Homo sapiens: one gene and its partners. The protein of the gene in region 1 interacts with the protein of each later gene in a pairwise test. Each region holds a gene or a part of one and is shown in the gene's direction. Other genes may lie near its edges. The genes, in order: STX6, SNAP29, STOM, GOLM2 and DNAJC5.

Region 1 (3,519 bases):
TGGAATTTTGTTTTAGGCTATGAGTGAAATGTCAAGTTGCAAATTTTCAAGGAATAGCAGGATCAGGGCTCTCTAAGCACTCCAGCAGGCATGGGCCTTGCCACGTTGTGCCAGGTGCCAGGCTCTGTGCTGCTCCTTGCCTCACCAGCACCCCTGCTCTGGCACCCACACACAGGTGCATCTTCCAGTCCTTGGGCCCTCTCTCAATCTCTATCCTATTATCACAAACATTTGGGATCAGACTGATGAACTTTAAGCTATTTCACAATAAAACGTGGATGATTTGCCCTATACTTAGCTCTACCTAAGTGTACACCATGGAAAACGTAGGAAAAATAGCCCTGTGACCTCAGGAGCACACAAGGCCCTGGTGGTGTCCCAGTTCTCTGTCCTTAGGCCAGTGATGCATTATAGCATTTTTCTGACCCTAAAAAAATTGTCACTATTTCCTCATGTCTTCCATAGAGGTCCTTAGAGTGTGGATCATAATGAGCAGGATCTTTTCAGTCTTGATAGCCCTAAGACCAGGTCAGGGCAGAGCCACCCACAAAAAGCCTTGGATCTGCTTTACACCAGAGACAGTCACCATCCAGCTGGACTGAAGCTCTGGGCCCCTGGAAGCTCTTGTAAGAAAAGCTTCTAATAACTGAGCTTCCCTGATCCTAGCCCCTGAAGTCTGGCCATTTGATGGAGTTCACCCCTCGCAGTCTGAGAAGAGGTCAGTGTCAGTATGGAGGAAGGTCATGGGGCTGTTGGAAGGGTTTTCAGACAGAACCAAGTAACCAGGCAGGCTTTTAATAGTGCCTGAGATTTTTTTTAAATTACCCGATAGGAAAATTTGGCAACTCTACAAGGAAAAAGAGTCTTAGTTGCTAGCGTCTTCTGGCTCTTGCCTGCGGGGCTGGTGTGAGCAGTTACTTTGACCAGTCAGGAAGGCTTGTGGGGATCTGGTCAGAACCAACTGCTGAGATGGAACTCTCACATTCCTGCCTGTCTTCTTCATGTGAGGAAGACATACCCATTTATGGCTGCAAACTTCCTTGAATTCATACTTGGGAAACCCGACCCTTGTGTCTGGGAGCCCTGGTGGAGAACTCTGACTTTAGGGCAGCCCTTGCCTCGGTTGCCAGGGTCAGGCATTCCTTGTGGTCATACCTGCCTGTAAAGTAACCCCCAGTTGTCATCTGGAAAGCCTGAAGGACCCTGGATTCTATTCATGGGTTAAACTTAACAGACATTGATGGTTCTTGTGCCTTTGTGTGTGAAGGGCTATGGCTTACCTTCTTGTCATTCCAGGGAACTCTCCCTTTCCCCCCACCAAAAAAACCCACAACTTCCCCTGGGTCACACTTTTTTTAAAAAAGTACTCTAGATCTTCGGAATCAGGTTGACTGGAACCTATGGGTTGCTGAAGTTCCACAGGTACCAGGAAGAGCTCTTTTACAAGAGATTGAATGCTTTTCAATTATAACACAGTATATAGATGGGTGTTTGTTGATTTAGCAGACGTTTATTTGCACTTTAAGGGGACAAAGCCCATTGTGAGGCCTATTGGGAGAGCTTAAAGACATAGAGGGCCCTTCCTGGAATTCCTTAAATAGTACCACCCAGGCACCAACCTACACCACTACATAAAAGCCTTGCCCAGGGGAAAATAGACAAGAAATGTGAAAACTCTTTATATCACTCTTGATGCATCACTTGTTCAGAGATAGTAATTGTTTGTTTCTCCTGACTCCTCTGGTTGTTCTTCTCACACAGGCACTGCTGGGAGACAGTGGCAGCCAGAACTGGAGCACTGGAACAACAGATAAATATGGGCGTCTGGACCGAGAGCTCCAGAGAGCCAATTCTCATTTCATTGAGGAGCAGCAGGCACAGCAGCAGGTACCCCAAGGACCCCAGACTTAGGACGGGCCAGTGGGAAACAAGACACCCCCTTAGTTCCTTTGCCAGCCATGGGGTCTTGTGGCTTAGTGACAAGGAGGGTAAGCCAGAGCTTGTCCTGTGTTGATTGTGTTTAATAATTGCATATGTAAAGGGTTTCAAAATCTTCACAGTGTGACTGCTTCAAGAGAACCAAGCTCAGCCAGGCGTGGTGGCTCACACCTTTAGTCCTAGCTACTGAGGAGGCTGAGGCTGGAGGATCCTTGAGCCCAGGAGTTCAAGGCTACAGTGAGCTTCGATCATGCCATTGCATTCTAGCCTGGGTGACAGAGCAAGACCCTTTCTCTAAAAAAATAAAGAACCAAGCTCAGTTAGTTCTCTTAGAAAAAACAGACCTTTGTCCATCTCAGCAAAGACACTTTCAGAAAGATCTCTCATTTTTTTCTTCGAAAATTATTGATTGGTTTCTTTTTTTTTTTTTTTTTTGTGAGACGGAGTCTCACTCTGTCACCCAGGCTGGAGTGCAGTGGCACCATCTCGGCTCACGGCAACCTCCGCCTCCCGAGTTCAAGCAGTTCTCCTGCCTCAGCCTCCTGAGTAGCTGGGACTACAGGTGCACGCCACCACGCCCAGCTAATTTTTTTTTTGTATTTTAGTAGAGACGGGGTTTCACCTTGTTTCTCAGGCTGGTCTCGAACTCTTGAGCTCAGGCAATCCACCTGACTCAGCCTCCCAAAGTACTAGGATTACAGGCATGAGCCACCGCGCCCGGCCTATTGGTTGGTTTTGTTATATGTAAAGATGACTGCTTTTGTGTAGGTTAAGGGGTAGAAGGAAAATGAAATTGATTATGTCTGTTGATGCCTTTGATATGTAGCTGTATTAATAAAAGCAAGCTAATGATAATGTGTCTGGGGATTTGAGGAGCATGTACCCATTGAAACTATTGATTCTTAAATATTGTGTTTTATGTATACATGTAGTTTATATGTTCTTTTGTTCTTTACATTAGTATGTCTGCTTAACCAGTTGTCTACTTAAATTGCTATTAAACCCAGGAAATTTTTTTTCTATAGAAAGTGAGAAGAATGCAACACAACTAAAAGTAAATATTTGTCAGTCAGTAGTTGTCCTTGAGGTAACTTATTGCCACAGGGAATCCTTTCGTTTGTCCTTGAAGAGAGAGGAAAGACTGCATAGTTTCCCCACATCCAGAGATTTGCCAGACTCTCTTGTATTTAAGCTGTGGCAGTCTGTTGTGGATTGAGACCTTGATCTTGGCAATGGGCTTCCTCCTCCCAAACATCCCCATGTCTCAATGGTCATCTGCACGTGTGCTTTCAACCATTGTCTGCTCCATTATTGGACGTCAGCCAACCAGAGTAAATCTCTCTTGGTGGTTTCAAGCCCCGCTGACTGTTCACAAGTTGGATCAGCAGGAGATATCAGTAGCTTAACAATCCAGCCTTTTGAGCAGTGTGTTCTCAGAGGCAACGGTCTGGTCCTTTGATTTCTGGGCTTTGCTTCTGAATGTGAATTGTCCCAAGTTGGCAAAGAAACTAGCAGCTGCTAGAGTGCTGGGCTTGGAACCAGGTAAGATGGATTTTAATTGCTTATTTCCCATTTCTCTGG
Region 2 (3,519 bases), on another chromosome or scaffold:
CCTCCCGGGTTCATGCCGTTCTCCTGCCTCAGCCTCCCGAGTAGCTGGGACTACAGGCGCCTGCCACCATGCCTGGCTAATTTTTTGTATTTTTAGTAGAGACGGGGTTTCACCGTGTTAGCCAGGATGGTCTCGACCTCCTGACTTCGTGATCCATCCGCCTCCGCCTTCCAAAGTGCTGGGATTACAGGCGTGAGCCACCACATCCGGCCTAATTTTTGTATTTTTAGTAGAGATGGGGTTTCACCATGTTGGCCAGTCTGGTCTCAAACTCCTGACCTCAGGTGATCCACCTGCCTCAGCCTCCTAGAGTGCCGAGCCACCACGCCAGGCTTTTTTTTTTTTTTTTTTTTTTTTTTTGAGACAGAGTCTCACTCTGTTGCCCAGGCTGGAGTGCAGTGGCACCATCTCAGCTCACTGAAACCTCTGTCTCCCAGGTTCAAGCAATTCTCTTGCCTCAGCCTCCTGAGTAGCTGGGATTACAGGCATGTGTCACCATGCCTGGTTAATTTTTGTATTTTTAGGAGAGATGGGGTTTCTCCATGTTGGCCAGGATAGTCTCGAACTCTTGATCTCAGATGATCCGCCCGCCTCAGCCTTCCAAAGTGCTAGGATTATGGGCGTGAGCCACCACACCTGGCCTCTCTCTTTGTTTTAATTCTGTAATGTGGAGCTTTTCTTTTTCATTTTATTTATTTATTTTTTAAGAGATGAGGTCTTGCTGTGTTGGCCAGGTTGGTCTTGAACTCCTGGCCTCAAGCAGTCCTCCCACCTCGGCCTCCCAAAGTGCTAGGATTACAGGCATGAGCCACCACACCTAACTGCAGAGCCGTTTTTTTTAATGCATCACTAAGGTACAGTAAAATATGTGCATCTTAAGTGGAGAGCCAGTGACTGTGAACCTGTGTACACTAGTGTGGCCACCACCCAGATCAAGATGTAGGGTGTGGCAGGGAGGAAATTAGATAACTACTTCAAACTCAGAGTGGGGCTGGGGAGAAACCAGTGTAGGTAACAAAGCTGGTGGTGATGGCAGAAAGAACAGGCAGGCGAAGCCATCAAGAGTTATGGAGAGGTTCAGGCATGGTGGCTCATGCCTGTAATCCCAGCAATTTGGGAGACTGAGGCAGGAGGATCACTTGATCCCAGCCTGAGCAACATGACAAAACCCCGTCTCTACAGAAAAACACAAAAATGAAGTTGGGCATGGTGGTTCAGGCCTGTAATCCCAGCACTTTGGGAGGCCGAGGCGGGTGCATCGTTTGAGGTCAGGAGTGTGAGACCAGGCCAGCCAACATGGTGAAACCCAGTGTCTCCTAAAAATACAAAAATCAGCCAGGCATGGTGGTGCCTGCCTGTAGCCCCAGCTACTTGGGAGGCTGAGGAGGAGAATCCCTTAAGCCTGGGAGGCAGAGGTTGTAGTGAGCGGAGATTGCACCACTGCACCTCAGCCTGGGTAACAGTGAGACTCTGTCTCAAAAAAAAAAAAAAAAAAAAAAAAAAAAAGGCCGGGCATGGTGAGTCACGCCTGTAATCCCAGCACTTTGGGAGGCCAAGGCCAACGGAGCACGAGGTCAGGAGATTGAGACCATCCTGGCTAACACGGTGAAACCCCGTCTCTACTAAAAATACAAAATATTATCCGGGTGTGGTGGCGGGCGCCTGTGGTCCCAGCTACTCGGGAGGGTGAGAAATGTGTATGGCGTGAACCCAGGAGGCGGAGCTTACAGTGAGCTGAGATCACGCCACTGCAACAGTGAGCTGAGATCACGCCACTGCACTCCAGCCTGGGCGACAGAGCAAGACTCTGACACACACAGACACACACAGACACACACACACACACACACACGAAAATTAGCCACACACACACACACACACACACACACACACACACACACACACACACGAAAATTAGCCGGACATGGTGGTACGTGCTTGTGGTCCCAGCTACTGAGGTGGCTGAGGTGGACCCGACCTTTTGGCTTAGGTGGGAGGATCACCTGAACCCAGGGAGGTTGAGCCTACAATGAGCTATGATTGTACCAGTCTACTCCAGCCTGGGTGACAGAGTGAGACCCTATCTCAAAAAAAAAAAAAAAAAAAGTACTGCAGGAGGGACCTGCAGAGTTGGCCCTGGGAACCTGCCGGCCTCAGTGAGTGCCCTGGGGAGGCACTAGCTAAGGTTATGAGGGTTGGTTGGTTTTTTTGGCTCAGCCATAATCACCATTCTGGGTTCTCCAGCTCAACCCTAATTTTAAACATCCGCCATTTCCCTCCAGTTCTAGTCGTTGCTTGTTTTTTGTTGTTTTTTTTTCAATATACATATCAGAAAGATGTTTTATATCCTAATCTTTGGCCACATTTAATTGCCATAGGAGAAGGTAGGATGTTCATTTGTTTTGGTCTAAGACATCCTCCATGTACAAACTCAGGAGCAGAGTGAGCCCTTGGAGGAGTGGGAAGCTGGCAAGTTTGTGACTAGCACCCTTTCACACCCTTCCACATCCTACATACCTCTTCACAAAGGCTGCTTCTGGGGCTCTTGGAGGCCCCTGCATCCCTGAACATAGCTATGAAAGCCATGGAAGTCCTGTGGCTCCAGGGGCAGTTTTCTTTTTTTGGAGCATCATGAAAACTCAGGGGCTTCCCAGCAAAGGCTTCCATCAGTGAGGCAGCCATAGTTATTTCAGTGAGGTGGGCTTTGTCTCTTGGGAAGTCCTGTTTGTCCTTGCTGACAGCTTTCCAAGCTGCTTGTTCTCATTTCCACTTAAAGCTGATGCGTTCCCGTCAAGGTCCCCAAAGTCATGTACCCTGCCTGGCCTGCCCCTAGATTAGCCCCAATCAGTTGTAGCATTCTTGCCATCTCTTAGTAAATTCAAGAAAGCAAAACTTTCACCCACACTCTGCAGTTCTGTGGGAGCAGAAGCTGCAGGAATGCAGTCTGTCTGTTGGAAGATATGGGGGAGGCAGACAGTCCACAGGGATGCAGTGGGGACCCAGAGGAGAGGGAGGTTGGCCCTGGGAACAGAGGAAGGCTGCACAAAGGACCTGACTTTTTGCAGAAGGTGAAGGTTTTGAGGGAACCCACCAATTGAAGGAGGGGTTGGTGCAGGCACATGGCAGTAAAAGCACAGGGGAAGCCGGGATGAAGGAAGTTGTTGGCCATTTCAAGGGCCCAGCAGGGCCAGACACAGTGGCTCATGCCTGTTATCCCAACATTTTATAAGGCCAAGGCAGGACAATCACTTGGGGCCAGGAGTTGAAGATCAGCCTGGGCAACATAGCAAGATTCTGTCTCTACAAACATAAAAAATTTTTAAAGCTGGGCATGGTGATACAGGCCTGTAGTCATATTTACATGGACGACCAAAAAAAAAAATGGGGGGGCGGCTGGGTGCAGTGGCTCACGCCTGTAATCCCAGCACTTTTGGGAGGCTAAGGTGGGCGGATCACGAGGTCAGGAGATCGAGACCATCCTAGCTAACACGGTGAAACCCCGTCTCTACTAAAAATACA
Region 3 (3,519 bases), on another chromosome or scaffold:
GCACTTTGGGAGGCTGAGGTGGGTGGATCACCTGAGGTGAGGAGTTCAAGACCAGCCTGGCCACCATGGTGAAACCCCGTCCTTACTAAAAATACAAAGAGTAGCCTGGTGTGGTGGTAGGCGCCTGTAATCCCAGCTACTGGGGAGGCTGAGAAGGAGAATTGCTTGAACCCTGGAGGTGGAGGTTGCAGTGAGCTGAGATTGCGCCACTGCACTTCAGCCCAGGCGACAGAGCAAGACTTCTTCTCAAAAAAATTAAATTAAATAAAAAATTAATAATAATAAAAACTTAAAAAAAAATGAAACTTGTTTGCCATCCCACTATTCAAAGGAAAAATTGAAGCTCTGAAAAGTTAAGTGACGTCCGCAAGGTCGCACAGTTGATTAGTAGCAGTGGAAATTAGAATTCCCCTCTGCTCCTCATTGCCTCCTCTAGTACTGACTTCCCAGGATGGGCTATGAGCCTCTTCCATAGCATTCTTAAGAGTTTGGAAAGAAAATTTCTATCTTCCCTTTATAACAGTAAGAAAAGATAGAAGAAACCGCTTAGAATTCTGAATTGCCATGCTCCCACTTGGACGGGGCTGTAGGGTTAGTCTAGAAGCAGTCTCATGAACCTGGGCAGTGACTGTCTTGGAGTTCACACATAGAATCACAATGAGCCTAGCCCTTCTGTAAAATACAGTAACCCTGCAACAACCATAGGCTTATTGTATTGAAATTCTCATGGAAAATAGGGGGGTCACAGTTTCTTCAACAAATAAATTGCACAGGAAAGGTGAGATAGAGTGGAATAATCTAAAGATTAAGAGACTTTATAGAAAAATTCCTTAGGCTAATTAGCCATCGGGGAAATGCAAATTCACATTATAAGCGGATGTCACACTAGACAGCTATCAGAATGGCCTGAAAAGAACGGAAAAGAACCAAGTGTGGGTGAGAGAGGAACTAGAACTCTCATATTCTGCTGGTGGCAGTGTAACTTAATACAACCACTGTGGAAAACAGTCTGGCAATGTCTATTCATACTGAACATTTGTATACCCTATGAGCCAGCAGCTCCAACTCCTAAGTATGAATCTAACAGAAATGCACTCATATGTTTACCAAAAGGCATGTACTAGAATGTTCACAGCAGCACATTGACCCAAACTGTAGAATACCCAAATGTCCATTCCTAGCTGAATGAATGAAGTCTGGTTTATTCACATGTAGGCATACTACATAGCAAAGAGAATGAATGTAAGTGCTCACACACATAATTTGAGTGAAAGAAGCCGGTCACAGAAGAGGACAGATTCTCCTACGTGTTTCTCTGTATGTTAGGTTTGGTTTTTAAAGTGTTTAGACCAGCTCTTAGTGGCCTGAAATGTAATATCTTTTGTGTTTGCATCAGCTTTTATTTCCTTTTCATAACTCTCAGAAAAACACCTGGCACATGCTTTTGGGCTCATGTTTCTGGGTGTAGAAGTCTATTAATTGAGAGGATGGAGTGCAGAAATACAGATCACCTTTCTCTGCCTTTTCCTCTGCCCAGACCACCTGGTCTGCAGAAGGGACAGGTAGCACCAATTTCACATACATGAAAATGCCAGACTTTAAAATGATGTTCTATAAATATGAAATGTTGATTGCTATGAGATTACTGCACATTCGACAAAAGCCGTGCACACCCACAAATAGCTTGCTTTGCTCTCTAAGATCCTATCAACGGAGTGTACTTGGCCTGTATTTAGACAAAGCCGGTGGTGTTGTTTACATCTTTGGCAGCTTGCTCAGTGTGGCTTTTCTATGAACAAAATGTGTGCCCAGCCCGGTGGGTCTGGCTTCTCAGCCAAGCGATTGTGTATTGATTGGTGGTGGGAAATGAGATATCTTTTCAGTTGGTCCATGTCCAAAGAAAAAAGTGCCTAATTGGACATCTGAGATGATATGGAAAAAATGAGAGCCTGCTGCTCTCATAGCAGGGGATTTCTGATGTATTCTCTGTAGTGCCTACCTTGGAATACAGTTCTGTGGTTTTCTTTGAGCAAAGCTGGCACTTGTCCCTTCTCACAGACCTAGGCAGGACATGATGTGTGGCTTTGATAAATTAAGGTTTTTATCCTATAAGCTGGATCCTTTCTCTCAGTGAGTACTATATTCTGTATCCTATCTCCATTAATGGCACTAATCTATGCAACCAAAACCTGGAAACCTGGGTCTCAGCCTGTGTCCCCCTTTCCTCCTCCTACCTAGTCTCCAAATTCCACTGATTCGCCCTCCTTCGGGGAGGGAGAATAGCTCCCCAAACCATTTCATTCTCTGTCCCCACCACCTATGAATCGCACCGGCCACTCTAAAGCAGTTCCACTAGCAGCTTTCACTGCCTTCTCTTCTAACCTCAGACATCTGTCAGAGAGCTTTTTCAAACTAGATCTGATGGAGTTTACTTACCTGCTTAAAATCATTCTGCAGCTTCCCATTGCCTACAGAATGAAGACCAAACACCCTGGCCCTCACTGCCCTTCAGAACCCGGCCCCATTCATCCCCCACCTTTCCCCTCTTCCTGCCATAGTATTCAGCCATTGACAGTTTTCTGGAATATACCATTTTTATACCTCAGTACCGTTTCATGTGTTCTGCCCAAAATATTCTTCCTCATCTTTTTCTAAACAGCAAACATTTTATCATTTAATATTCAACTTCTATAACCTCACCACGTCACCCTCTGGAAAAGTTGCTTTCTTCTGTTTGCTTGCACTGTGCCTTGTACATATGTCTGTCAGCATTTATCACACTAGAATGAAATGATCTACTTCCATGTCTGCCTTCCCTACCTGACCAGGAGCTGAAGAAGGCTAGGGATTCCACTCTATCCTTAGCTTTTCCTACACAGGGCTTATTAACCCTAGAAGGCCCCCAAATTTTGCTGTGTGAGTGAATGAAATCTCACTGGGCATAAGACCATCACCTCCAATTCTGATATTCATGGAGTATTATGGACCATTAATTATTCAAGATTCAAGTGAGGATAATAACCTGGAGAAATTGTACTTTTAATCTTGATAATTATGGTGTCTTAATACCTTTCCTTCTTCTAGGATTATGAATTAAAGTAACTACCTTGAATCTTTTGTGCATTAAAGCATAGTTGGACCCAAAAATCAGGTCTTGTCACTTGCCATTCCTCTATAATAGCCCCCTTTATTCATTTAACACTTTATATACTTTCTCTGTCTTCCTCACAAGTGGTCCTCTGAAGTACATGTTAGTCTGCTTTAAGAATGGGAAACTGAGGTTCAGGATGTTCAGTAACCTCTCTGAGGACATTCGGCTGGTAAATGTTAGATTTGGGATTTGAACTCAAGTCCATTTGACTCCAGAACTCCTGTTCTGTCTACTACTCGAGTGATCTTCAAACTTTTTTGCCTGTGAAACCCCTTACAGAATTTAGAAAAACTATAAAGTCCATCAAACATTTTAAATCGGCATGTAAAAATTTTTCATCTTGAATTTATGTACTTGCCAAGAATATA
Region 4 (3,519 bases), on another chromosome or scaffold:
GGAGGTCGGGGCTCCAGTCAGCTGTGATCACACTGGTGCACTCCAGCCTGAGTAACACAGCAAGACTTCTCAAAAAAATTAAAAAAATGAATGCTTATCATAAATGGTTTATAATGATAAATTAAAAACCATGGAAATCTTATAGGGAGGGTTCATTAAATTTGTTATATCCATAAAAGTGTAATATGTAGCCACTAAAAAGGATGATGCTGAGCTATATTTATTGGCATACAAAGATATATATGTTGGGCCGGATGTGGTGGCTCACGCCTGTAATCCCAGCACTTTGGGAGGCCGAGGTGGGCGGATCACCTGAGGTCAGGAGTTCGAGACCAGTCTGACCCACATGGAGAAACCCCATCTCTACTAAAAATACAAAATTAGCTGGGCTTGGCGCATGCCTATAATCCCAGCTACTTGGGACGGCTGAGGCAGGAGAATCGCTTGAACCGGGGAGGCGGAGGTTGTGGTGAGCCGAGATCGCGCCATTGCACTCCAGCCTGGGCAACAAGAGCAAAACTCCGTCTCAAAAAACAAAACAAAACAAAACAAAAAACAAAGATACCTATGTTGTTTCTTGTTTTTAAGACAGTGTTTCCCTCTGTCACCCAGGCTGGAGTGCAGTGGTGGCTCACTGCAGCCCTAGCCTCCTGGGCTCAAGTGATCCTCCCATCTCAGCCTCCTGAGTAGCTGGATTACAGATGTGTGCCACCCCACCCAGCTAATTGTATTTACTTTTAGTAGAGACAGAGTCTTGCTAGGTACCCCTGGGCTCAAATGATCTTCCTGCCTTGGCCTCCTAAAATATTGGGATTACAGACATGAGACACTGTGCTCAATCTGTATCTGTGATTTTTTAAATTAAAAAGAAAACAGGTTACAAGAAAACAAGTATAACATAATCTCATTTTTGTGGAGGAAAAAAATAGATACTTGTATATGTATACACAAGTATCTCCTATACAAAATTGGAGGGTAAGGTTAGCACTCTTAATTGTCTCCAAGTCAGCTAGCATTTTTCTAGATCATCGTTTGTTTCAGTACGACTAACTATAATAATTACCTCTTTTTTTAATTTTTAATTTTTTAGGTATATAGTAGGTGTGGGGCTTATAACTATTACTTCTGGCCTCTGGGAAGCCCTCTAACTATTCTATCCTAGGTATAAATAAATACCTTTCTCCTTAGTTCAACAAAACCAAGGCTGGGGTTTTCTAAAAGGAATTTTTCAAGAAAACAAAAAAAGGAAAGTAAACAAAAGGCAAAATAAAAGCATAGAAATCAAAGTGTTTACAGGATACACACTGCTTTTTCTTATGTCAGTAAAAGTCTATCCACCAACTAGTTAAGTTGTTACAGTTTATGGGGCTCTAAAGTTTTTGGGAGCTGGGCATGATGGCTCACGTCTATAATCCCAGCAGTTTGGGAGGCCAAGGTGGGACAATTGCTTGAGGCCAGGAGTTTGAGACCAGCCCGGACCACATAGTAAGACCTCGTCTCTACAAAAAATAAAATATTAGCCAAGTGTAGTAGTGCAAGCCTGTGGTCCCAGCTACTTGGGAGGCTGAGCTGGGAGGATCACTTGAGCCCAGGAAGTTGAAGTTGCAGTGAGTGATGATTTTGCCATTGCCTTCCAGCTTGGGCAACAGAACAAAACCCTGTCTCAGAAAATAAAAAATAAAAATAATCCTTGTGACTCTGCAACCCAGGCTGGAGTGCAGTGCCGCGGCCTTGGCTCATTGCAACCTCCACCTCCCAGGTTCTAGCAATTCTGGTGCCTCAGGCCCCCAAGTAGCTGGGGTTACAGGCGTGTGCCACCACGCCAGGCTGAATTTTTTGTATTTTTTAGTAGAGATGGGGTTTTGCTGTTTTGGCCAGGCTGGTCTCAAACTTCTGGCCACAAGTGACTCACATGCCTCGGTCTTTCAAAGTGCTGGAATTACAGGCGTGAGCCACCTTTCCTGGCCCCTTGTGGCAATTTTTTACCCAGATCTCTCTAGCCAAAACTATAAAATTGAGAGTTTTGATTCAGCACTATCATTTGGTAATAATGTAGAGAAAAATGGAATGACGTGGAAAATATGTGTAAAATACAAATAAAAAAGATTATAAGATAGTATATATGATATAACCCTAATTTTAAGGTATACAGTATAATGTACAGAAATAAAAAAAAACCCACCAGAGAGATACTCTTCAGATGATAACAGTGGTTATCTTTAAGTTGTAGTACTACAGTTAAAGTTTAATTTCTTTGTGCTTTTCTATTTTTCCAAGTTTTCTATAGGAACATGTTATTAAGAAGTATATATATATATTTTTTAAATTATTTATTTATTTATTTATTTATTTATTTTTTTGAGACGGAGTCTTGCTCTGTCACCCAGGCTGGAGTGCAGTGGTGTGACCTCGGCTCACTGCAAGCTCTGCGTCCCGGGTTCACGCCATTCTCCTGCCTCAGCCTCCCAAGTAGCTGGGACTACAGGTGCCCGCCACCACGCCCGGCTAATTTTTATTTTTTTGTATTTTTAATAGAGACGGGGTTTCACGATGTTAGCCAGGTTGGTTTCGATTTCCTGACCTCGTGAGCCGCCCGCCTCGGCTGCCCAAAGTGCTGGAATTATAGGCGTGAGCCACCGCGCCAGGACTTTTTTTTTTTTTTTTTTTGAGATAGAGTTTTCACTCTTATCGCCCAGGCCGCAGTGCAGTGGCCTGATCTCAGCTCACTGCAACCTCCACCTCCCAGGTTCAAGAGATTCTTCTGTCTCAGCCTCCTAAGTAGCTGGGATTACAGACACGCACCACCATGCCCGGCTAATTTTTTGTATTTTTAGTAGAGATGGGGTTTCACCTTGTTGGCCAAGCTGGGCGACAGAGCAAGACTCTGTCTCAAAATAAGTAAATAAAAGAAAAGAAAAGAAAATTTGAGCAACTAAAAATAACATATTCTTAATACCTTACCTAACTTGTGTCAATTTTTATTTGTGCTATGCATATAAAAAGGTCTCACTGTTGAAGATCACTGTATCTGAAGAGATTCATTTTATTTATTTATTTATTTGAGATGAAGTCTCTGTCACCCAGGTTGCAGTGCAATGGCGCGATCTCAGCTCACTGCAACTTCCGCCTCCCAGATTCAAGTGATTCTCCTATCTCAGCCTCCTAAGTAGCTGGGATTATAGACACGCACCACCACGCCCGGCTAATTTTTTGTATTTTTAGTAGAGATGGGGTTTCACCTTGTTGGCCAAGCTGATCTTGAACTCCTGACCTTGTGATCTGCCCACCTCAACTTCCCAAAGTGCTGGGATTACAGGCGTGAGCCACTGCGCCCAGTCCATTTTATTAATTCATCAAATCTTTGTTGAACTTCTCTTACATGCTAGGCATGTTCTAGATGTTGGGGATATAGTGGTGACGAAGACAGTTTGTACTGTCATGGAGCTTATATTCTGGGCAGATTTATTGGTCAAAAAAATCTGTGATGGGGCCGGGCGCGGCGGCTCACACCTATAATCC
Region 5 (3,519 bases), on another chromosome or scaffold:
TCTCTAGACCAGGTTTCTTCTAAGTATTTGGCATCACCAGGAAGAGCCCTGTACAAGGTGCTGGTGGTTTTATCCTTAGAGCCCAGATGTGAGGTGCTCACGTGTGTGCCTGGGGTTAGCAGTTGGTGTTTGTTGAATGAATGACTAAAATGCAGTGGGGCGGGGAGTCATGATAAGGTAGAATTTTATCTGAGGTGGAGTTTGCTTCTGAAATCAGGCAGTAAGGTGAATGTGATACCCAGTTAGGAGTATGTAATGCTGCAGGTAAACTGTAACAGCAAATGAAAGCAGTATTTCTCCAGGAAGGAAACAGACCCCTGGGTCCTCGGGCTGGGTTGGAAAAAGCCATTTGTAGAGAAATGGAACATGGTGGCTAGCCCTGCACAAGACATAGAGAAGAGACCCTTAACACTCCAGTTATCTCCAAGTGGGCAGTTAGAATGAGTGCTTCTAGGCCGGGCACGGTGGCTCACACCAGTAATCCCAGCACTTTGGGAGGCCGAGGCGGGCAGATCTTGAGATCGAGAGATCGAGACCATCCTGGCCAACATGGTGAAACCCTGTCTCTACTAAAAATACAAAAATAGCTGGGTGTGGTGGCGGGCACCTGTAATTCCAGCTACTAGGGAGGCTGAGGCAGGAGAATTGCTTGAACCCGGGAGGCAGAGGTTGCAGTGAGCTGAGATAGCACCACTGCACTCCAGCCTGGGCGACAGAGCGAGACTCCCTCTCACAACAAACAAACAAACAAACTGCAGTGCTTCTAAGGTGAGACTCATCGTGATGTTCTGATTAGAACGTTCTCGTGCCACAAAGTCCTGAGATGTGTCCAAGAAGCACCGTCTTCTGTCAGACACACCTCCTGCCCCGCCATAGGCCTTCCCACTGTGGCAGCAGAATCTGTGCTAGGCCTTCCTTCGTGAAAGAGGACAAGATCAGGGCTCACGTGACTGGGGCCGCTGTGACTCTGAGCCTCTGCGTTCTGTCAGATGAGGGTAGTGGTGCTTCCCCTGCGTCCTGCTGGGAGAAAAAAGGAGGCAGTAAATGAAAGGTGTCTCATCACCTGCTTCCTAAATAGAAGGGACAAAGAGGCTGAAAAACAGTAATAGTCTTGTTTTATGAAAATGCCACCCCTAATCTAGGAGCTGGGACTGCCATGCCAGGACCCCTCAGATAATGACATCCCTGAAGAGGATTAGCAGCTAGTCTGTTATCAGTCACAGGCAGTTCAACCCAGAAGATTTAAGGATTAGATTACCCAACAACCTTGAGTGTAGATTTTGTCTCTCATCACCCTTTGCATTAACTTTGGGTGCATGTGTGTTAATGAGGAAGTGTGTTCTGCTTTATTCTTGGTACATCACAGACATTTAATAGATACAGGTCATTAGAAATAAAAATTGTTTTAACTTGTATGAGTTTTGCAAGCATTGATATTTCAAATTGAAATTGCAGAAATTAGGACAGCATTTCATTTTCTTTTGTTTTTTTGAGACGGAGTCTCATTCTCTCACCCAGGCTGGAGTGCGGTGGCGTGACCTTGGCTCACTGCAACCTCTGCCTCCTGGGTTCAAGTGATTCTTCTGCCTCAGCCTCCCGAGTAGCTGGGACTACAGGCGGTCGCCACCACGCCAGGCTAATTTTTTGTATTTTTAGTAGAGACAGGGTTTCGCGGTGTTAGCCAGGATGGTCTCGATCTCCTGACCTTGTGATCCGCCCATCTTGGCCTCCCAAAGTGCTGGGATTGCAGGTGTGAGCCACTGCGCCTGGGCTTTTTTTTTTTTTTTTTTTTGGTTGGGGGACGGAGTCTCACTCTGTCACCCAGGCTTGAGTACAACGGTACGGTTTCCGCTCATGGCAACCTCTGCCTCCTAGGTTCAAGTGATTCTCCTGCCTCAGCCTCCTGGGTTGCTGGGATTACAGGCGCCTGCCATGACACCCGGCTAATTTTTGTATTTTTAGTAGAGATGGGGTTTTGCCATGTTGGCCAGGCTGGTCTTGAACTCCTGACCTCAGGTGATCCACCCACTTTGGCCTCCCAAAGTGCTGGGATTATAGGCGTGAGCCACTGAGCCCAGCCCCAAGTTGGTCTTGAGCTCCTGGACTCAAGTGATCGTCCAACCAGCATCTCATTTTCTAAAGAAAGAAGTACTTAGACCAGGTTTGGGACATGTCTCTGAAAATTCTGGGCTGGTGCAGTGGCTCATGCCTGTAATCCCAGCACTTTGAGAGGCCGAGGCAGGCGGATTGCTAGAGTCCAGAAGTGAAGACCAGGCTGGGCAACATAGCAAAACCCCATCTGTACTAAAACTAGAAACAATTAGCCGGGTATGGTGACATGCAGCTGTAGTCCCAGCTACTCGGAGGCTGAGGTGGTAGGATCACCTGAGCCTGGGAGGCTGAGGCTGCAGCAAGCCATGATTGCTCCACTGCACTCCAGCCTGGGCGACAGAGCAAGACACTGTCTCAAAAAAAAAAAAAAAAAAAAAAAGGAAGTTCTGTATTGATCAATAATTTCCTCCTCAGGACAGACCTGCATATGCCACAATTTAACTTTGTTGCAACATCATTCTACATTTTGCATGAATGGTTTCAAAAAACTTATTTCTATGACAGAGAACTTTGTCATTTATTCTTGACATATTAAACCTGAGTGACATTTTTAAATTTTTGTGTTGTGTTGTGAGTGCTTAGTGAAGATTCCTTGAATATGGATGTGAATGAATCTTATTTTTCATGGGTTTATAATTGTATTGTCCCTTTAAATATTCTACATTGAACATGTATCACCAGCAGAAATAATCATTTACGAGGTGAAGTGTCCAGAGCCATGTAGTGTCTGCATTGCTGTGTCCAGGGATTCTTTGTTTGTTTGAGACGGAGTCTCGCTCTGTCATCCAGGCTGGAGTGCAGTGGCACGATCGTGTCTCACTGCCGCTTCCACCTCCCGGGTTCAAGTGATTCTTCTGCCTCAGCCTCTTGAGTAACTGGAATTACAGGCGTGTGCCACCACGCCCAGCTAATTTTTGTATTTTTAGTAGAGATGGGGTTTCACCATGTTGTCCAGGCTGGTCTCAAACTCCTGAACTCAAGTAATCAACCCACCTTGGCCTCCCAAGGTGCTGGGTTTACAGGCATGAGCCACTGTGCTCAATCTGCGTTCTGAGGCATTCTGTGCCTGTTATGAAATCATGATGCTGGCAGGTCGGAAGATGGAATCGACTTCCCAGCCCCATCGGCTGTGCCCTGCCCTCCTTGCTGTCTCTAGAGCGCGGCTGACTTCGGGGAGAGCTCTCCCTGCCCTGTGCCTCTATTTTTTCACCAGGTAGGGTGGAAATGTGTTCTAGTGAAACTGCAGAACGAAAATATCCCGTCTTACTCTTGACCCTTGAAGAAGCAGGAGCTGAATTCAGGTGCCAGAGGCTGCGTCCGCGCGCTCCACATCAGTCTCAGAGTGGAGGCGAGCCCAGGCCAGAGGCCTCTACCCCGGACGAGGCTGCAGGTGCCTGACGGGAGGAG

Evidence for each region.
Region 2: the proteins of STX6 (region 1) and SNAP29 interact in binary tests that used the Homo sapiens proteins (3 or more experiments, as listed by UniProt).
Region 3: the proteins of STX6 (region 1) and STOM interact in binary tests that used the Homo sapiens proteins (3 or more experiments, as listed by UniProt).
Region 4: the proteins of STX6 (region 1) and GOLM2 interact in a two-hybrid assay, tested with the Homo sapiens proteins (one large-scale study listed by BioGRID).
Region 5: the proteins of STX6 (region 1) and DNAJC5 come close enough for resonance energy transfer, tested with the Homo sapiens proteins (one study listed by BioGRID).

The regions. Positions count from the first base shown.
Region 1 is NC_000001.11:180,988,352-180,991,870, reverse strand, and holds part of STX6 (syntaxin-6), read left to right. Parts: intron 1-1,761; coding exon 1,762-1,887; intron 1,888-3,519. UniProt on the Homo sapiens protein: SNARE promoting movement of transport vesicles to target membranes. Targets endosomes to the trans-Golgi network, and may therefore function in retrograde trafficking.
Region 2 is NC_000022.11:20,872,488-20,876,006, forward strand, and holds part of SNAP29 (synaptosomal-associated protein 29), read left to right. Parts: intron 1-3,519. UniProt on the Homo sapiens protein: SNAREs, soluble N-ethylmaleimide-sensitive factor-attachment protein receptors, are essential proteins for fusion of cellular membranes.
Region 3 is NC_000009.12:121,342,738-121,346,256, reverse strand, and holds part of STOM (stomatin), read left to right. Parts: intron 1-3,519. UniProt on the Homo sapiens protein: Regulates ion channel activity and transmembrane ion transport. Regulates ASIC2 and ASIC3 channel activity.
Region 4 is NC_000015.10:44,375,707-44,379,225, forward strand, and holds part of GOLM2 (protein GOLM2), read left to right. Parts: intron 1-3,519.
Region 5 is NC_000020.11:63,898,109-63,901,627, forward strand, and holds part of DNAJC5 (dnaJ homolog subfamily C member 5), read left to right. Parts: intron 1-3,519. UniProt on the Homo sapiens protein: Acts as a general chaperone in regulated exocytosis. Acts as a co-chaperone for the SNARE protein SNAP-25. Involved in the calcium-mediated control of a late stage of exocytosis. May have an important role in presynaptic function.